Regions from separate parts of the Homo sapiens genome. Here all the other regions are reported to be linked to region 2. The links are microRNA targets in miRTarBase. Many come from high-throughput screens and were not tested one by one. Region 2 holds a microRNA gene; each other region holds the end of a gene's coding sequence.
What was found. The annotated mature microRNA hsa-miR-1262 reads AUGGGUGAAUUUGUAGAAGGAU and lies in region 2 at 1,318-1,339, opposite strand. An mRNA with a match to its seed (bases 2 to 7 or 8) in the 3' UTR can be bound and repressed. Matches are read on the target gene's strand: a 7mer-m8 pairs with bases 2 to 8, a 7mer-A1 pairs with bases 2 to 7 and ends in A, and an 8mer does both.

Region 1 (4,448 bases), not on the chromosome of region 2:
GGGCTCCTCCCTAGCACGACTGGAGAAAGGACTCCTGTGAAGCGGTCACCTCCATGAGTCCCTCCTGTCCTGGCTTCCAACCACTCTGAAGTGGGGCTTTTGTCCACAGACCTGGCCTCTGCTGCCTACCCTCTTCTGTCCCCACCTGATGGGGCCGCTTTCCTTCTGAAGCGGCTGCATTTTGGGTTTCTCTCCACAGGAAGAGTTGGGGCTCACAGGCACACCCTCTCCCTAACTCTTCTCCCCCGGTTCAACCTGGATCCAGGGATCCACACTCTGCTCCGAGAGGCCAGCACGCAGCCACTGGAAAATGAGCCAGTGGGAGAGGGCAGCTCCATGTTTATTGATCAGCAGACTATGTCTTTTTGTTTGAAACTTCTAAATAAGATTACAAAAAGAAAAAAAATAGAAGCATTGCGTATTAACTGCATTGGTTAACCAACATTGGAACCCAATACTCTTGTATTAGGCCCGCATTTACCTGAGTAAACTCAGTGGTTTTCTGTCCTAAGCATGCTTGCCTGCTACATCCCATGGAGAAAATAAACAGTGAAACACTTTCCTCATCTTCAAGGCAATTGTCTCAGGCATCCTCCAGGCATCATGAAGGAGGGTGAGCGAGGGTGCGAGGTGGAAAGGTCCAGGCCGCGGCTGTGACTCCCGCGGGTGAACCACAGCTCCACAGCCCCAAATCCAAAGATGCTCTTGCTGCAGCACGACAAGTGTTCAAAAGAGAACCAGGCCCAGCCCGGAGAAAGGAAAGCCAAAAGCCAACTGAATGAATGACCCTCCCCCAGAAGAGCAACCCTGCCCCCAGGCCATCCAAGTGCGGTGAGTTGAGAAATGAATTGACAGACGCTGCAGGGCTGGAGCAGGAGGCGGAAGCAGGTTGGAAGGCTGTTGTGTGCCACCCCTCCCTGGGAGCTGGGGAGATTCCCAAGTCTTAGTGCAGTGTTTCTCTACAAACGGGGTCAGGAGACCCTCACTGGCAGGCTGACAACTTGGAAGCAGACTGTGGGAGCAATAGGCTGGAGTTTTCATTTTCCCTTTAAACTCAAGACCGGAAGGTTTGTGTTATGCGATACCATATGCTGTGTAGAAAACAGGGCCTCAGCTTCTTAGATGTTGTAGTTCTAGAGTTTAGGTACTTCCACCCTCTCTCCTATACATAAACACTCTGTGGAAGAGGTTCTTTGAAAATTGGGGTGGTGCAGGAAGGGCAACGGTGATGGTGAGCAGGCCCCAGGGTCGGCCCTGCCGCCCTGCCGTGTGGGGTAGGGAGACAGCTGGTGGTGTGGACACATTCACAGAACTTTGTACTGGTCCTGGGAAGATACAAGTCCTCACTTGGTCGCCATCCCTCATATTTTCTAGTGTTTTCTTTTCCAGTCAACTTTTCTTGATGAATGACTGCATGTAAGAGGATATTAAGAAAAGTGGCCAAATGATTTCCTTTTTTTTTCCTTTCTCTCCAAGAACATTACCAGGTGCCAGCAGGGAAAGGACTCCGCTGCCTGACGCCTCTCCCACCTGAGAGCGCAGAGGTAGGGAGATCACAGTGCCTGAGAGGTTTTCCTCCACGGAGAAATCAGAGACCTCAACCTGCTGCCCTCTAAAGCAGCTTTCTGTATCCAGACAAAACTTACATATGTACACGTTGTTTTAAAACGACATACTCATGTGACACACATGTATATAAATTCATGTTTATATATGACAATTGAGGAGAGTTAAAGAACAAGATAATTCTGGATGGAAAAATCAGTTTGCCTGGGCATCTGTAAACCTTTGGGCAAGTGAATTCCCTCTTCTCTCTCAGTTCACCCTTTGGTGACCTCCACCGTGGCTGCAGACTTCAGGTGGTCCTCACGCATTCACAGAACTGTCTGCTTAGGTTACAGCACTTTGGGAGGCCGAGGTGGGTAGATCACGAGGTCAGGAGATCGAGACCATATTGACCAACATGGTAAAACCCCATCTCTACTAAAATACAAAAATTAGCCGGGCGTGGTGGCGGGTGCCTGTAGTCCCAGCTACTTGGGAGGCTGAGGCAGGGGAATCACTTGAACCTGGGAGGCGGAGGTTGCAGTGAACTGAGATTGCGCCACTGCACTCCAGCCTGGGTGACAGAGACTTCCTCTCAAAATAAAAATAAAAATAATAAAATAATAAATGGTTCTTTTCTATGCGTCTAATGAATTTAAGTGCTTGTTAAGACTAAAAACCATGTTATGCATTTCCTGCTCTTAAAACTAAATTATGTAGAAAGTAAGCTAGGGAGTGTAAGGGTAGGCATCTGGATATAAATGCTTCTCCCAAATCAAGATTTTCTCTTCAATCTGTGCCTTTGACCCTGTCACCAAAGGCAGGTGACAGAAAAAAAAAATTATGTGCCTTTTGGAAGACTCAGTGGGACGGTTCTGATTTCATTCACTTCTGGTGCCAGCAGGCCCCCATACCATGTGGCCATTGCTGTTTCGTGTCTCTTCCTGCATAAATAATGCAGAGAGGCCATGCAGGTATGCAATTTTCTGGAGATGAGGCAGGGAGATTTGCAAGGAAAAGTCACCTACCTCCCCAAGCTGGTGCCCACAGAGGGGGAGGCACCTCCACCTGACGCAGGTGTCTGAGCAGCAGTCCAGAGAGGTTTACTCAGGGGATTTGGGGAGCGCACACTCTGGAGCAGAAGTACAGGTATGTGCCCGAATCCTGCCTCGTGATGGGCATTCATGATACGAACCACACAGCCTTTAAAGAAAAGGTTTTATATGAAAGGTTCCATTTTGTTTCTGTATAAAGGCTTTTATCCTGTAAGGAAAAAAAAAAAACACAAAACCCTAGACATAATAAATGCCTGTTTTCTACAAAAACAATGTCTAACTCTGGGTGGACTGATCTCTTCTCAACAGCCCAGGGCAGGGCTGGTCCCTCATTCACCTGTGTCCACAGGGCCGAAGACACTGCACACACTAGGACAGGATTTGATTGAATTTAAATCCTGCCACCCACCAAGGAGACCTCGGGATATTTAATGTTTGAGGGCCACACTAAACGATCACTGCAGAGAACCACCTCTTTTCTTTACTGTAGTTTAAGTATGATAAGTGGGCTTTGCTATTACTTATTGGAAAAACCAGTAAGAAAAGCTAATTTTCAGGCTTCAATGTGATTTGACATGCAAACGGGAAGTTTTGCCAGGGGTTAATAAAGGTTGTGAATTCCAAATTCCTAGCCGAATATGGCTTTGCTGGTAAGCCCCCTGGAAGGGAGGTTGGGAGGGCTGACCAGATGGTCATCGGGGCACTGGGATGGAGGCACGCTGGGGCCTGACTGCCTGCTCTGCTGGAGACTGCAGAATGGATGGCAGATCCACAGTGCATCCCCCTTCCAAACCCAGGAGGCATCTGTCGCCTTCTCTTTGGTAGACAGTCTGGAGACAGCAGAAACCCTCTGCTCTATTTTTTTGCCACTCTAAATATAGCAGAAAACAAAATAAAATAAATAAGATAATCTTTGCTGCCTCCAGGTGCCCTCTGAGGGACAGACAGCTGCTCCAGAGTTGTTCATGAGGACAAAAAGCCCAGGCAGCCTGGAGACCCAGCTGCTCTGGGTGAGCCTTAGCTCACTTCCTGTGGTTCCTGGGACTTACCAGGCCCACCCCCATGCGCATTTCTCCAGGCAGGTTCTGAGGACTCTTTGGACAATTTCTCTTTCTTCTCAACCCTTCAATCTCCTAATCCACCCCCCTACCCCCAATATTTTCATAGAAACTAAGGGAATTTTGGAGGTGAAAGAAGTCATCTAGTTTCCAGTGTCCACCCTCCCCATTCTACAGATGGGGAAACCAAGGCACAGAGAGGGCAGTGCCTTGCCCAAGGTCATTCGGTGAGTCAGTGGTGGAGCAGGCCTGAGGCCCAGGTCCCCCAGTTCCCACCCCGTTCTGCAGCCCACCCCTCAGTCGGCCTTGGGCAGGGACTTCCTGTGCGAGGGGGGCACGAGGTGGGGGGGCAGGCTGCTGGGCAGCTCGTAGCCGTCGAGCTTGATCTTGATGAGGTGCTTGGCCAGCGCGAACTCCTCCTCATCAAGCATGCCGTCGCAGTCGCAGTCGGCCAGCTTCCAGATCTTGCCCAGGACGCTGTTGGGCAGCTTGGAGGTCACCATCTCCTTCTTGGCGTTGACACCTGATATCTTGCCATTGATGGGCGACAGAGTGTAGAAGAGCTCGTCGTAGACGGGCTTGTCTTTGGCCACGACCCACTCCTCCTCGTCGGCGCCCTCCTTGGCACCCTCCCCGTAGCCCTGGTTGAAGGGGCCCTCGGTGGTGCCATCGAAGGCGCCGCCCTGCACCAGCTGCGTGGGCGTGCTCGTCTCCTCCTGGCTGATGAGGTTCATGAGGGGCGAGATCTTGTTGCTCAGCATGTTGTCCACTGCCTCGATCAGCTTGGGCT
Region 2 (4,000 bases):
AGCTCTATAGCGATGCCTATGGAGGAGCCTTATAATGATGTTGTCCAAGTAATGTGCTTAACAATAATCACACTCAAAGCCAAAGGTTCCCATGCTCCTGCCAATATAACATGCTCACAACGGTCAATTCCAAAGGAAGAGCTGTCAAGAAGTGCCTGAAGATTTCCTCAAAGGGAGAGATAATTCATGAGCAAACAAACATCATGTCCCTAATCTTCTCTATCCTGGGGTAAACAAAATATAGTTTTCTCCCATGATTTCAGTTGCTTTCTATACCAAGTCAGTAAGTAAAACTGATTCATACTGGTAACTTCCAGGTTCCAGCCTTGGTTTGAAGGGGCACACAATTCAATAAGAGTAAAGAAGACTGGCCATGTAAGCCCATCTTGAATACTGACAACTTCCGTACCATTTACCTAACACTACAAACCCTACTCCATTTAAGTCTCTGAGATCTTTTTGATGTATTTTGAGCTTTTCAACTTGCCTTTTTTGGTGGGAGAGGAGGGAGGAGGAGAACAAAGGGAGAATTTGAAGTTTTTATTTCTGCTTGCATTGACTCAAATTGTGGTAAAGAAACTTAAAAGGTAACTTTAAAATTCTAGTGACACTAGCCAACAATGAAAACTATCTAATTAGAATGTTAGAGGTTTTTTTTGTTTGAGACAGAGTTGCTCTGTTGCCCAGGCTGGAGTGCAGTGGTGCGATCTCGGCTTGCTGCAACCTCCACCTCCCAGGTTCAAGTGATTCTCCTGCCTCAGCCTCCCAAGTAGCTGGGATTACAGGCACACGCCACCATGCTGGGCTAATTTTTGTATAGACAGGGTTTCACCATATTGGTCAGGCTGGTCTTGAACTCCTGACCTCAGGTGATCCACCCACCTCAGCCTCCCAATGTGCTGGGATTACAGGTGTGAACCACTGTGCCCAGCCAAAATGTTAGATAGTTTTAACACAGGCTATAACATAGTCATAAATTAAAGAAGACATGGTCGTAAATGAAAGAAGACCTCTTTTTGGTGGGAGTAGTAGTAGGGGTGGGAGAGTAGAGTTATACATTTCTTCTTAGCAGTTGCTTCAACATATTTTATTAATAAGGACTATCTGCTGAAGCACAGAAATACAATTATGTGAATATCATACTACCAATGGCCTGTTCCATCATAGCAGGGATAGTTCTTATAGTGTATAAAATCCTCTGCCCCATTCAGCTCTCTTTATGGAGCTTTCCTCAGAAGCATCAGAAAACACAGAATTAAATATCACAATTCTTGTTGAAGGCCAAAAATTAGTTCCCAGAAGGATTCTTTGACTTTCATCCTTCTACAAATTCACCCATCACCATTGTAGATAATGTGAGGGGTGAATTTGTAGAAGGATGAAATTCAGAGAATTGTTTATGATCAATAGATTGTTCCCTTTATTCCAGTTGTCTTCCCTTGATGTCCACTTAACATTCCATAATAAATGGACAAATGGAAAAGCACAATTACTCTGCCAAAAGTCAGTCAACATTCTCCCAGGACACTCAGCCATCTAACTTGAAAACTGACTGGTAATAATATCATTCTAATTACTTTAACTAGAAATTTGTTATACAGAAATGCTTTCAGTGTGGGGAAAGAAAAATCACTTGCCACTTATAGAAAGAATTCTGCTTCATGTGACCATTTGCAATAATGAAACAAGTAAGACAACACTGGGTTCCAGTGTACAGCACAAGGATCAAGGCGAAACATAATGCTTTCATTACGTAAGAATAGGACTGACATTATTCTGGCTTTCCCCTACCCTTCATCATTTACCAATATTTTTTCAGTCTCAGGAATTTTTCAACCCCTGAAACTCCTAGATTTACTACTCAAGACACAGCTATCCATCTTGAGGCTTTCTGCCAATGGCTCTAGTGCTTCTATTTCAACAGCTTATAGATTTGAAAGCTGGAAAGAGAGATATGTAAACAAATTCTCTAACTTTGATCTATGCACCCAGGTTTCTCAAAAGAAGCCCTTGGAGAGTCTGGGGTATACTAAGTGTATGACTTGCAGTTGTAATCATTAGAGTGACAACCCATTTCCAGTGGGTACCGTTTTAGCCAACCCAAACCTTTCTTTTCCTAATGCATAGAGTGACTTTTTAAAAAATGGTATATTTGGGAAAGTATTTTAGAATGGCATGTTAACAAAACAAAAACACTCTAGAATATATTTTCAAATAACAGAACTTGGCCTTACCAAGAGGTCTAATACCATCAGGTAAATAATCATTTTTATCAGTGATTCATAATACATCCAGACTCTAAATGTTAAGGCTGACTTTTTTCTGACACTCTTCTCTGCCTATTCATACTCCATTTCCTAACTCCTTTAGAGTAAAAATTGAAATCCCATATCCCTAACAACTAGACAGAAGCATCATGTTTACATCCTGACAAATTCATTAATTCTGTACCTCTGAAATATTTAGCAAAAAGCCAGCACTGACTCAATCATAGATTTCCACAGACAGGTCTGTTCATATTTGTAATTGGTATTCACTGAAAGGTCAATGACTCCTGTTCCCAAGTATCTATGAGTCTCTAGATTTTCTTAATTGGCCTCTTTTCCTCAGCTCTTACAGACTATTGTTTTAAAACTACCACCATTTAGAAGTTGAACTCCGAGTGAGGGGAAAAACAAACAAACAAGCAAACAAAAAAAACACTTTTTGATTCCCACTCCACTCATAATCAACATAACACAGACTACTTCTGACCCAGGTGTGATGGAAGGAGCGGGGCACAGAGTCGGGGGAGGTTTCTCCACACACCAAGCAAGCAATCAATCACTTCCACAGCAGACATCAGCTGGGTGTCCAAAAATTCAATTTTGACACCACTTACCTGGAAATAGCATCAAGTCTCATAGGTTGAAAGCTCAGTCCCATAAGACTGCTCCCCACTTCAGATGCCCATCGAAAAAACAGGTTGTGGCCTGTTATAAATACGCGTTCCCATGACCCTCCTCCTTAGGATTGATTGATTTGCTACAGAGGCTCACAGAACTCAGGGAAACACTTAACTTATGCACGTTATAAAGGATATGACAAAGGATACACATGAACAACCAGATAAAAGATTGATAGGGTAAGGCATGTGGTATGGCAGGGATCCCTGACCCTCTGGCAGCAGACAGGTACCAGTCAGTGGCCTGTTAGGAACTGAGCCATATAGTAGGGGGTAAGAGGTGGGTGAGCAAGTATTATAGCCTGAGTTCTGCCTCCTGTCAGATCAGCTGGCATTATATTCTCATAGGAGTGGGAACCCTATTGTGAAGTATTCATGCAAGGGATCTAGGCTGCATGCTCCTTATGAGAATCTAATGCCTGATGATCTGAAGCGGAACCATTTCATACCCAAACCATCCCCCATCCCCTCATCTGTGGAAAAAGTGTCTTCCATGAAACCGGTCCCTGGTGCCCAAAAAGTTGAGGATGGCTATGATAAGGCACAGAGCATCCCTGTCCTCTCTAGGGTGCCATGCTCCGGGAACCTCTGCAAGTTCAGCTGTCTGGAAGCTCCCAGAACCCAGTCCTTTTGAGTTTTTATGGAGGCTTCATTACCTAGGCATGACTGATTACATTATTGGCCATAAGCGAGTGACTCAATCTTTAGGCCTCTTCCCTCCTGGCTGTTGGTGGGTGGGGCTGAAATTAGTTCCCCACCCTTCTAATCATGCCTTGGTCTTTCAGGTGACCATTCTGAAGCTATCTGGGAGTCCCCAGCCATCAGTTGACTCATTAGCATGCAAAGAGGCATTCCTATCACTCAGGAGATTCCAAGAATTTTAGAAGCTGTGTATCAGGAAATTTATTACTATAAAGTACCTTATAATGCCATCATTTTTCTCCCAAAGGCACTGGCTTGATTAAATTCAGAAATTAAAACAATGGCCAGCTTCTATAGTGTAAGTCAATGCTTTTCTAGTTTTCTGAGGGTTTGGAAACTCAAATCCTAGCTAAA
Region 3 (4,448 bases), not on the chromosome of region 2:
CCAGATATCCAACAATTTATCAGACATCCCTTGACAAGTCTGTTTCATGGTTTTCTTACCATCTTGAAGTCACATACCTCTAGCTTTGTGTTTCAAATGTCACCATAGGGTTCTATTGAGAATCCAGGAAAACTGTGGCTATTGCACAAGTCAAGATTTTTGTTTTTGAGACAGGGTTTCACTTTTGCTCGGGCTAGAGTACAGTGGTACAATCACAGCTCATTACAGCCTCAATTTCCTTTTATTTATTGTAGAGACAGGGTCTCACTATGTTGCTCAGACTGGCCTCAAACTCCTAGGCTCAAGCAATCCTCCCACCTCAGACTCCCAAACTTTTGAGATTACAGGTGTGAGCCATGGCGCCCAGCCCAAAGTTCAGTTTTGGAGTAAGAATTTGGACACTTGACCAGGTGCAGTGGCTCATGCCTGTAATTCCAACATGCTGGGAGGCAAAGGTGGGCGTATTGCTTGAGGACAGAAGTTCAAGACCAGCCTGGCCAACATGGTGAAACTTTGTCTCTACTAAAAATACAAAAATTAGCCGGGTGTGGTGGCACATCCCTGTAGTCCCAGTTACTTGGGTGACTGAGGCATGAGAATCACTTGAACCTGGGAGGTGGAGGTTGCAGTGAGCCGAGATCACGCCATTGCACTCCAGCCTGGGTGACAGAACAAAAACGTCTTAAAAAGAAAAAAAATTTTTTTTGTACACTTGCCATCATTCAAGGCACTAGCACAGAGGCCTGTGGAGGGCCCTAAGGGAAGAAAATCAGAAAATTCAAACAAACTAATGGAAATGTTTTAGGAAATCACAGGACAGTCTCTGAAAGCAGGAAAGGATGGAACCCAAATTAGCAGCACCTCTTCCATTATGACAAGAGGAAGGGCAAAGAAGATGAGATTGCAAAGCCTGAAGCCCGGAACCCAAAAAATCCATCACAATTGTCCATCCAGGAGAATAAAATCACATTTCCAGTTATGTGTCTGTGACAGAAACTTGGTGACTGCTTACTAATGAACCCCCAAATTCACTCACCTGTTTTTGGCAAATGAATCTTGTGAATTACATATTGCACAGATATGTAATATTTTGCTTTTCTAGGAACACCATCTGTTTTTAATGAAAATTGAGGAAATATTTTCTAACGGAAGCATATTCTGAGAAAGATCAGAATATACATTTTCATAAGATTTTTCAGCTTATTACATATTTGACTGTGGAACTAAAATGTTGCCAAATAAAGAAAATGACAAAGCCAAGTGTGATGGCAGAACCCTGCATTCCCAGCTACTTGGGAAGCTGCAGCAAGACTGCTTGAGCCTAGGAGTTCAAGGAAGCAGTATGCTATGATCGCACCTGTTAACAGCCACGGCACTCCAGCCTAGACAACAGAACAAGATCCTAAATTAAAAAAAATAAAGAAAATGATCAAGGTTATAAATTTTTTTCTACTTAATAGAAATAACCATGAATGAAATAAGGAAACTTATTTGAGTTTGATCATCCTCAACCAATGTTTTAAGAGTCTAGTCTATAATAAAGGTTGGGACCTAACACTTTTAAACTTCTGTCTAACTCCAAACTCATAAATACACATTGTTGTATTGATTTTAAACTTCAGACATGTAGTATTTGGTCAAGTAGGCTACTTAAAAAACAGGGCAACAGAAAAGTTTCTGAATGTCACTAGACAATTAAACTTTTATTGAAGCGTAAATTGTGGTACAGAAATACATTTCAACTGATTTAAGTCCAACACCAGTGAAAGGAGAAATTATGGCACCAAAACTTTCCCTCTTCTATCATACGATGATTTAGATTATGATTCAAACTACATTTCTCTTTTCTAGGCTTTGTCCCATAAAAATTTGTGCAGTTTTTCAACATTAGAATTCTTAATTCTATTGGAAACAAAACAAAACAAAACAAAACAAAAACAAAACCAAACCAGACCTCAAGTCAACAAATCTATTGGGATATTGTTTACGAACAAAGTCCACCTTAAGCATTGGTCCTCAAAACAGAGCTCCTCAAAATATTAGGTGCTGTGCTCATTACAGAATCAAACTGATCACACTGATTGAAAACTTCCTCAATGAAATTTTCAATCAACAACATGCTTCAAATAAAAGTCAAACAGTGTTCCAACCACTTGATTTCAAACCAAGTAGATTTTAGGTTTAGAAACACTAAAAAAAGGTGTTTCATTTATAAATACGGAAGGAACAAAAACATCACTGCATCAATCCAGAAATTATCAAAATATTTAGAGGACAAGAAATATAAAATTTAGTCAACTTTGCTGTTTTCTCAGTTCCTTAAAATCCCAGAGAATCTGCAAATATAGCTAAAAGGTACCAACTCTTGAAAGCCTATATTACTAGTCATTTCCCATTGAGTATTTTGGAATTTTATTATTCTATTTATTCATATTCTACTTATTTATAATGTATTCTGCTTTATGATGTTTATCTGAATAATCTGGACAAATTCTCATTCTGGGCAGTCATTCATTTCATCCTATGAATGCCATGGTAAGGGAAACACCGTAGTTAAGAGGAACAGATGAAGTCGGAACACTCACATGCATCACAGTCACAGAACTTTAAGTCACGAGATGGAAAAGACATTGATTCTGCTTTGGATCAAAGTTTATAGAACACTACTTAATGGAAACTAGTGGAAATGGCTGCTAAAGGAAAAGTTAAGGTGAATGATCCAAGCTGACTTGATTTACTGAATCCAGAACAAAATTATGCTAAATCTCTCTGGTAATTAACTAAATAAAAATGATTTTATACTACTACTAAGTTAGTAAAGGGGTGCTACTCATTAGACGCTAATCTCATTTACTGAGGAACACAGAATTGTATGTTTTCCACAGTTCAGCCAGTACACCCTAATCTCAATCTACAACTCTGGGTCTTCCCTGCTAACCAACTATTTTCCAAAAGAGCACATTACAATAAAAGAGAGGCTAAATTCCCATGCCCTTTAAAGAATATTAAGCCCAGGGACCATCTCCCCCATTCCCCATCTGGGGTATAGAATTAGTATATAAACCCACAGTGTTAACAGTGTATTGCTTTATTTGGGGTCTTGGGGGAGACACCAGGGAGAGGGAAGAAATCAAAGGACTATAAATGCAGGGTCCAATAATGTTAAAATAGCAAATATGCAAAATGAGTAACTGGAATCATTTTCTTAAGGACTCAACTCATGGAAGAAAAACTTTAATTGCTGTTTCCAAAAACATCAGTATGAAGTAGAAATTGGTTTCAATAACATTAGTAAAGAATATGTTCTAGAAAGTGGAGGTAACTGGATGTAAAATTCTGGCAGCAATTTAATAGAACAGTCCTAGAGGGTTAGGCTGAGGCCAACACCTAATGAGGACGAAAGCCTTGTCTGTGGGGAATTTTGGATGATACTTGGAGAAATATTACACTGTGCATAAACCAAATTGAGTTGCTTTCACAAGTGTTGTAAAGTTTCATATAGTAAAAGGTTTTTTCTACATGCACTTCAATTTCACAGCAAGAGTGGCAGAGAATACCTAAACACAGAAGAGAGCATTCATGCAAGATATCTAACTCCTTGATATAATAATGCATACAATTCAAAATGATTACACTATCATTACATCTAGGGCTTTCTGCAACTACACAGTGGTGGTTATGGAAAGCACTGCCCCCAGCATCGACATCTAGAAAGCATCCACCACCTTCTACATGTGTTCTCTTTTTGCGTTTTTTCTTCATTTTTCTTAATCAACTCTGCTGTTGTTGCTGCTTCTTAGCAAAACTGGTAAAAACAAAATTGTAATCATTGAACATAGCACTCTGGCAATCAAGACGCTTAAAACCTTCAATCTTCTGGGGCGAAGCAAGCACTGTGCGACATTTAGAACTCTGGGGGAAAAAATTAAATAACCGTTAGTGTTTGCAATCCAGAGAAGTATTTTCAACCAAAACAGTTAAGTGACAGACTTTTATCTTAATGAAACTAAGACATCTGAGTTATTTTAGCTGCCTTCTTATGTGCTGGAGGGGCCAGGGCATCTTATGGTTCCTCCCACCAGAGGCCTGTCAATAGCAAGACAGGAGGAACCCATCAGTTTGGCTAGACAGAAAACAAGGACTGACACAGGTCTAATGAAACAAAGCTTCTCAGCTACCAGTAACCTCAAACAATATTACTTCTGGATATCTGAGTGGCTGGTATATGTGCTATCTCAGAATACATCTTAGGCCTCACTGTCTCATTTCCTTTAAGATTTTAAAAATCAAATAACCTGATTAATAATAAAATATAAAATTACCTGATTAACAAACAAGGTGGTCACAAATTTTCCTGGCTTGAAGACTTCTACAACTTTCCTGATCAGGTCATCATAGGAGGTCTGACTTAAGTTTGTTTCAAAGCTAACATAAGAAAATTCTGGTTC
Region 4 (4,448 bases), not on the chromosome of region 2:
ATCAAATAAGATACTGTACGTGAACATAGTTTGCAAACTGGAGCTTAGTGTAACAGTACCGCTTTTACACTTACTATCAGAAGACCTCTTTAAGTTATGGTTGAGTTCAGTAGAATATTTATTTTGTGGAATTAACTATAATTCTGTGAAGGTATCAGGAATGAGCCACGTTGCTTTTTACAGAAACTGAGTCAGCTGGTATTTGAGGTATGACATTTAGAATTCTTGAGATTATTTGTAAGAAAAAGGTTTCTCTAGCAGCCCAGGAAACATATGGTTCTGTACTCTTCTAGGCTATAGTTTGGATGGGGAGGCCACAGTCCACATAAGCGGTGCCACAGCATTAGTCAGATGTATCTTTTGTACTTTCTACAGATGGATGACAATCTTCGCCAAAGCCCTCAGCTTCCTCCTCGGAAACTGCCAACACTTAAATTGACTCCAGCAGAAGAAGAAAATAATTCCTTCCAACGGCTTTCGCCCTGAGAGTAGTCATGGTTTGTGGCCAAAGTCAAACGATTGTTGCAGTAATCTCTTACACCAAGTGTGTGAAGGCAAAAAGAAGATACCATAATAGGTATTAAGGAAGACTCTAAACCAAAAGGAACTTTCTATGCCATCTATTTTTACTATTATTATTAGGAAGCTTGTATTCTAGCTTGGCACTGCATTTTTAATAACAAAGAGAATGCTAAATGAACTTGGTTGGGGGGGCGGGGAAGAAAAACACATCGTACTGTATACAAAGAACTGCCTTAATCATGGCAGATTTTTGCCTTTGGTTCACATGTTGCTGACCAAAGGCTACAATTCTGTTCTGAATGTGCACTCCTAATTTATTTGATTTAATTTATTCAATTTATTAACTTAGTTTTCTTAGACCAGGCTGAATACCTAATATGTGGCTTTTTGGCTGAGGCTTTTTACTTCTGTTTAGAAATTTGATGCCTATTTTAGGAACCAGAAAAAGATAAATTGCTTCAGTAGAAGAGACCATATTTAACTTTAAAAAGTGAGGAGGAATGTGCTTTTTAATTATGCTCTCATAAGTCTAATCTTTTGGGGGTTTAGTAGCACATAGATAAATATTAAAGGTGGTTACATATAATAACATCTGATAATACTCATTTCAGTATAACATTGGTCTTTGCTGATGTGTTCGATATAGGTTAGGAAGAGTTCTTTTAGTTTACTTGGGCAAATGTGGCAGTTTTAGACCTATGTCTTTGTAGTACATCTTCAGTTGTCTTTCTTGTATTAATTCCAGAAGAAGTGAATGTACTGGTTATCGTTACTATGCTAGGCTGTAAAATTCTTACTGAAATTGCCCACTTGTTAGACACTACTCAGGAGGAGCCCATGGCCAGGGTAGTAGAAATACTGTGCATCTGGTCCAAGTTTTCTATGCTTGGCTCATATTCTTTCATAAGATGCATATTCTTTCATAAGATGCATATCATGTAGTCAAAAGCTTTCTGACAACCAATTATTTTTCATATGTTTCACTTATAGTCGAAGAATACAAAGGAACAATCAGAAATAGCAGCTTTTAATGAATATTTTCTATTTATTGGTTGCTGAACTGTTAAGGGATTTGCTGTGTGGTAATTTTACTTATAATAGAAACTTGCTTATTTTAGTGGTTGAGGTGCTTCTGTTGTCCTAAAACTACTTCTGAGGTTTTTAAAATGTAGAACCATGTTTTTGATTAGTGTCTTAAAAGATTACTGTGGTGCTCAGCAAATCTTATCAAGTCGTGCAGGAACCCATATGTTAAGAAAATGAGCTTTGTAGTCAAAAGACTCATCTAATTTGAGCTGAGTGGAGCTCAGCTGTGTTTGACCCACATCCTCCCAATTTGTTCTGTATTTAGGTAGTTATTTATACAAGAGTCTTTAAGTCATTCTAAATATTTTTTCTTGAAAGTTTTAACTAAGTGAGAAATAAGGTAGTCTTCAAAATCTTGGTCATCTGTTTGGATGAGGGAAAGTACCTCATGAGTTGCACATTACTTCTACAACAGGGTGTGTGTGTGTGTGTTTGTGTGTGTCAGTCATCTTCAAAGGCAGATTATTAGATTCCAGCAATCTGAAATCTATTATTCCAGCAGTCTGAAACCTAAATATGTTATATTGGAAATCATGACTGTGAGACTTTATTGTCCTCTAGGATGGATGTATATTGGAGAAGGGTGGTTAGCACATTCATCAGACATCTGCTTATGCTGTGGTCAAGGCCAGTCATTTTTAATTTATATCAGATTTATATCAGACCCTCCAAAAAGTATTTGAAATATATTACAGTTATAACGTACAAGTACATTACATGTATATTACAAGTATATTACATGTAAAACAGGACAATTTAAAAATTTTAAATTTTAAAGAATTAAAAATTTTAAAAATTTAAATTAAAAAAATTAAAAATTTATAGAACCATATCAACACTGACAGATTCTAAAATTAAGTAGTAAATTTAACTCCAAGTTTCTCCATGGGCAAAGTCAAAAGATAATGCTAGGTTATGTCAATTTTTCTTTTCAACAAAACTGCTAATGTCTATTAGGAAGAAAAATGTGTTTAAAGTTTTACAGGAACGTGGAGCTCATGTTCTTCTGATATGTAGACTTTGATAAAGAAGCATACTGTAATGTTTTATGAACTGAAATTTTAATCAAAAGAGGTCATTTTAGAATAACAAGTATTATTCTTTTTTAGTAGAGGGAATGACTGTCAATATGATTTATTTGTTTTTGTGTCATCCCTACTTTGAACTGCTGTTAGCCTTACATTCTCACTATAGTCCATAATGCTTCCAGATCACCTTTTCTAAGATGCAACATGTGAGTTTAGTGAGAGTTTATATGTTGGGTTACTTAGTTGAGCTATTTATGTATAAGTAAATGAGATGACAGGAAGCTGTAACTGAGCACAAAGTACTTTAGGGAGCAGCCACACATACAGGAAGCTCTTAGAAAAGAACTTTTTTTTTTTTTTGAGACAGAGTTTCACTCTTGTTGCCCAGGCTGGAGTGCAGTAGCGCAGTCTCGGCTCACTGCAACCTCTACCTCCTGGGTTCAAGCAAGTCTCCTGTCTCAGCCTCCCAAGTAGCTGGGATTACAGGCATGTGCCACCATGCCCAGCTAATTTTGTTTTTTTTTTAGTCGAGACGGGGTTTCACCATGTTGCTCAGGCTGGTCTTGAACTCCTGACCTCAAGTGATTCACCTGCCTCGGCCTCCCAAAGTGCTGGGATTACAGGCGTGAGCCACTGCGCCCGGCCAAAAAGAACATTTTGTCAATCTGAACAGAGCACAGAACATTTTTTCAGACTGAACAGACTGTTGGACCAGCCTGTCATGATATGTTTTAGATAAAGTTTGAGTGAGTTCATTGGGATAAATGGTCCACAATCTTAAACAGAATACTGTGAGCCAATGCCTTTTGGAAGTAATGGTGGAGGATAATATGATTAAAGGGAACATGCTTGTGTTTATTTTTGTTGGTAGTATATGATTAGAAAAACTAGATAATTCCCATAAGATGAAGATCTTCCATGAACAAACTACCATCAATCATCCATCAGATTGATTTTTTTTTTTTTTTTAAGTAACACTAAAGAAGCTGTAAAGAACATTGAAGGTGGTCATTCCTTCAAAACTGTGTTTTGACCACACAAGGTGGGCATTAACAAACCAAATTTCAACTTAAGTTTGTTTGTATTATATTGGGGGTGCTGCGAGACTGGAGATTTTATAAAAGCAAGCATTTTTATTTCCATTTATAATTTCTATTCAATATTGCTAGATATATTAACATGAAGGAATGGGGAAGCTTATTTCAATCAAAGCTAAAATTTTCAGAAGTCTGTAAAAATGGAAAAACACCATTGAAAGAGGCAGAAACAGGTAAGGGGGATAGTATCTTAGAAAACCTGTTGGTTAAGGCAGCTGCATGTGATAAAAGTGGTACTTGAACTTGGTAGTGTTTCCTTAGAACCTCCTCCAAAAATATGCATTTACCAGGCTTGTTACAATTTTTTGACAGTTTTTCATCAACTGTCAAAAACTTCAACCCTTTTAAAACCTAGATATAAATGCTTACATGTAAAGAAAGGAAGCTAAGCAGTGGGTACCTGGGATCTCTCTGAACTATTTTTATAACTTCTTGTGAGTCTTAAGTATTTCAAAATAAAAGTGGTTTTAAAGTAAATTCATAGATTAAATGTATCATTATCTATATATAAACCATGATTTAAAACTTTAATTTTCTAAACATAGTATTCAACTTAGTTGAATAAATATATGATAGAAGTTAAATAGAATTTTTATTTCATTCTTAAGAAAAACTCATGTTTGTAACAAATGATATCTAAAGATCTATTTTGCCTTACCAGAAAAGAAAAAAAAAACCCTAAAACCAAAAACTCCTTTTCCCTAGGAAGTCAAAA
Region 5 (4,000 bases), not on the chromosome of region 2:
CTCCCTAGAGAGTATCTCCCTCTAGAAGGACAAGTTTGATTACTGTCCAGTATAATAAAGATCTATTCCTCCAGAGCAAAGGGCATGCATGCTAAATATCCATTATAACATATTTGGGCTCCCTAAACTCAGGGTTCTTTCTGTTATGCAATCCACTCTGTGTGCAGGTATCACCTGGACCTCTTCTGATAACACTGTGGGGATGCTGACACTCCGACTAATGCTACTGGTGTAATAAAGTCCTTTGTTTCCAATTCAGGAATCTGAGGCAAACTAACTTGCAAGGAGTGCTTCTAAATTCTTTATAATTTATTCTCACTTGCTTTAATGGCAGCCTCCTATTCTCTGATGAAGGCAAAACAGTTCACATATCCTGTTTCTCTTTGAAGGGGACTTGTCACTCTTTGAAATTCAGTTCCTTTGGCTACTTTCTCTGAAGGATATAAGAAAATTGATAAATTTTTGTTGTTAGGATAGGAGTAACATTGTCTTGCAGTTTTCTACGTCTTAGGTGGAAGTGAAAATCCTAAGGTGTATCTACTCGATTACTTTTTATTACTGAAATAGACACTGATTTGCAAACTCTTATTGTTCACCTTACACATATTTAATTACTTTTTAAAGAAGCATAGGCATAAGTGAGGAACTCTAGGAATTTTGAAAAACAGCTCGTGAAACATTTCATCACAAGGGCTGGAAACAATGGACCAAGGATATTTACATTCTAGCACAGGTGAGGCAGGAGAGGGTGAAATAATATGACTCATGAGACATGAAATGTTATACAAAATGTAAATATGCACTGGCGACCAACCCTACTAGAGGACCAGGAGAATATACAGGAAAGCTATAACCACTCAGGGTAGAGAGAGGGCTTTTGGAGCTCTCAAAAATGGGTAAGAGGTAGCAGAAAGACCTGAAAAGGATACAGAGGATGGTAGAAGAACAGCAAGCAGTGTCTTGGGGATTCATGGTTTTTCTATTTCTTCATTGTTTTTCCTCCTCTGCATTCACTCTCTTTTTCTGGTAAACAGAATTTGGATTTCTTTTGTGAGATTCACCCCTTCTGCATTTGAAAGTACTGTTAGGGCCGGGCGCAGTGGCTCACGCCTGTAATCCCAGCACTTTGGGAGGCCGAGGCGGGCGGATCACAAGGTCAGGAGATCGAGACCATCCTGGCTAACACAGGGAAACCCCATCTCTACTAAAAACACAAAAAATTAGCCGGGCGAGGTGGCGGGCGCCTGTAGTCCCAGCTACTCGGGAGGCTGAGGCAGGAGAATGGCATGAACCCGGGGGGCAGAGCCTGCAGTGAGCCGAGATCACGCCACTGCACTCCAGCCTGGGTGACCAAGCGAGACTCCATCTCAAATAAATAAATAAATAAATAAAATACTGTTAGGACTGCCAATTAAAGTGCCTAGTGGTCCCCTAACCAACTTTCCCAGGACTCCCTGAGTCACAAAAGATAGTAAATCAGTTGGAACCGATTCTTCACTGAGCTGTTAGTTCCTGTTACACAGAACAGACTTAGTTCCTATCCTTTCAAAGCCTACTTTACTTTTTCTTCTCTGTGAATTATCCAATATTCTCATTTTGCTTAAGTGAGCCAAAGTCGAATTTCTGTTGCTTGTAACCAAAGAAACCCAACTGATAGAGGGAGAGTGGTCCGAGAGGGCACAGTGGAGACTAAAGGAGGCTTGTGAAGGTATTCTGAAACCCAGACACTTTATTTAAAATTATGACAAACATTAATGACTGTCAAAATTGCTGACAAAGGTACAATGACTAAGCAATTTCATGTTTCTATGTGCTGGTACTTAATTAGCATTTTCTAATAATTAGGCTAATGATGTTTTATTACTACAACCTATATTTAGAGTTCACTCTCATTGTTCCCATATTAGAAATAAAAGCAAATGAAAATGAGTTTAATCAGGCATCACATGCTACAGGAAAAAAAATTGAGGAGAGGGTGCTGAGAGTAGCAACGGGTCTATGTTATAAGGAAATATATGCACTTACTGAGTTTTAGCTGTTAGATTCCTTAAATTTCAGTTATAAAAATCAGTTGTATCAGGCAAACCATATGTGAAGAAAATTTAAAGAACAAGATATCAAGTAGATATTAAAAAGAAAAATACAGTAGAGCACCAAATAGAATATTCTCAACAAATGTCTCAAAAAATGCACAGAGCAAAAATGAGACAAACAACTGCTACAAACAGATCAGTCTAACAGCTAAGTGATTTGGAATGAAAATTAACTCTTTGGCTAATCTTTCCCTCCCTCACAGAATGAGGCCGTGTGGCTCAGGGAGATCAACTGATTTGTCTGAAGCTTGCAAGGGTAGATTTCAGAGACGCTTCAGATGAGGGAGCCTCTCTTTCCATGAGGAGATGGCAGAATGCTGAATCCCTGTTCAATCTGAAATTTAGCCATATAACTTGTAGAAATAAGAGGAGGTTTTAAGACTCACTTAAAATATAAATATCATTCTGAGTCCTCTTCTAGGGTTATCCCATCACTTTCTGAAAATATTAGAAAAGATCAAGTTGTATCCAGGTAATAATCAGGATAAGACCATCTAATACATATCTTTAATAGCCAAAATTTTTTCAAACATGATACGTGAGCAGAACCAGGAAATTCTGGAAACCTAGTCTGCCACAGGTTACTTTTAACACAAGGTTACTCAGCCTTGGCACGACTACCATTTCGGGCAGGATAATTCTTTGTTGTGGGGCGCTGTCCAATGCAGGTTATTTAGCAGGATCCCTGGCCTCTACTCACTAAATGTCAATAACTGCCCTAGTCATGACATCAAAAATGTCTCCCGACAATTGCTAAATATCCCCTGAGGTTGACAAACGCTGATTTTAATATCATGACTCCAATAAAACAAATATAACTGTCAGCTGCATGAATGCACTGTGGAGTTAACTGTGATTAGAGTTTAATTTTAATCCAAATAGAAATCATGGCTAGAACTAAGTTAATTATGCTAGTTTTTGTCTAGTACTGAACTGTCCAATACAGTAGTCACAGGCCACATGTGGCAAGGAACACTTGAAATATGGCTACTCGGAAGTAAGAAATGCAGTAAGTATAAAATATGTACTGCATTTAGAAGACTTGGTACAAAAAAGGATGTAAAATATCTCATTAATAATTTCTATATTTCGCTATTTTGGGTATACTACTGGGTGAAAAGTAATATCAAAATTATTTTGCCCTGCTCACTTTTACTTTGTTTAATGTAGTTACTAGAAAATTTTAAATAAAATATGTGACTTATATTATAATTCTATTGGATGGCACTAGTCTGCAAACTTGAAATGATTTAATATTATTCTTTAAGGAAATAAATTAAGTCTATCATGCCAAAAAAATTTTGGAAACCACAGCCCTATAAAATTAGTTCACTTTTGAGCATCCTAACTCTTTATCACGTCTAAATGATTTTTCTGCTTCTTTAAACCAATTACTTCTATTCCAATGCTTTATTCTCAGAGTTTCAATCGGTTCTTTTCTGACTGCCGATTTATCTTCATGTTGTTCCTTATCATTCTCCTGCACATCTGTTTCTTTCATACACTTGGGAACTTTCCTAGTGCCACGTTGAGATGTTGCGGCATCTATCATACTTAGAAAATCATAAGCTGGAAGAGGAGGTTTCCATTCTTGAGCAGGTAAAATTGCTGGAAGGAAGAAACAATCAAAGGTTAAAGATTAACAGCTATAAATCGTCACATCAACATATTAGAAAATGTTTTATTTTGAAAAATATATTTGTAGAAGTGAAAGTTTTATTAGTTTTACTTATCTAAGCAAAGCTAGGAATTTTTTTACTGTCATTGTCAACAAGAAATTTGATACATTTGTCACTACTAGCCATTTTCATTTTTAGATTACATTTACAAGCTATTATTTTCTTTAAAAAAAGTATGAATAGGGGAAAAAAGGTCCATAATCTCAATGCCGATTAACCTTTGCTAAG

Region 1: the mRNA of EHD4 is a reported target of hsa-miR-1262. Seed matches in the 3' UTR shown: 7mer-m8 at 3,608-3,614 and 7mer-m8 at 2,121-2,127.
Region 3: the mRNA of AMD1 is a reported target of hsa-miR-1262. The part of its 3' UTR that is shown has no 7-base or 8-base seed match.
Region 4: miRTarBase lists MTX3 as a target of hsa-miR-1262. The part of its 3' UTR that is shown has no 7-base or 8-base seed match.
Region 5: the mRNA of TXNDC16 is a reported target of hsa-miR-1262. Seed matches in the 3' UTR shown: 7mer-m8 at 3,204-3,210.

Annotation. Positions count from the first base shown.
Region 1 is chr15:41,896,691-41,901,138 of GRCh38, forward strand. It overlaps EHD4 (EH domain containing 4), which reads right to left. Exons shown (of 6, transcript NM_139265.4): 6 at 1-4,448. The coding sequence ends at 3,955. LOC105370792 (a long non-coding RNA gene) reads left to right here. Exons shown (of 4, transcript NR_135681.1): 3 at 1-831; 4 at 1,477-2,125. Among named protein-coding and RNA genes, the nearest start is that of SPTBN5, 4.9 kb to the left of the region's middle.
Region 2 is chr1:68,182,259-68,186,258 of GRCh38, forward strand. MIR1262 (microRNA 1262) reads right to left here and starts at 1,352; the gene lies at 1,260-1,352. All of the region lies in intron 2 of WLS (Wnt ligand secretion mediator), which reads right to left. The region is part of intron 9 of GNG12-AS1 (GNG12, DIRAS3 and WLS antisense RNA 1); the gene reads left to right.
Region 3 is chr6:110,892,940-110,897,387 of GRCh38, reverse strand. It overlaps AMD1 (adenosylmethionine decarboxylase 1), which reads right to left. Exons shown (of 9, transcript NM_001634.6): 8 at 4,323-4,448; 9 at 1,675-3,912. The coding sequence ends at 3,772. Among named protein-coding and RNA genes, the nearest start is that of AMD1, 20 kb to the right of the region's middle.
Region 4 is chr5:79,979,722-79,984,169 of GRCh38, reverse strand. MTX3 (metaxin 3) reads left to right here. Exons shown (of 9, transcript NM_001363818.2): 9 at 376-4,448. The coding sequence ends at 486. Among named protein-coding and RNA genes, the nearest start is that of MTX3, 9.3 kb to the left of the region's middle.
Region 5 is chr14:52,428,887-52,432,886 of GRCh38, forward strand. TXNDC16 (thioredoxin domain containing 16) reads right to left here. Exons shown (of 21, transcript NM_020784.3): 21 at 1,710-3,701. The coding sequence ends at 3,418. Among named protein-coding and RNA genes, the nearest start is that of PTGER2, 120 kb to the left of the region's middle.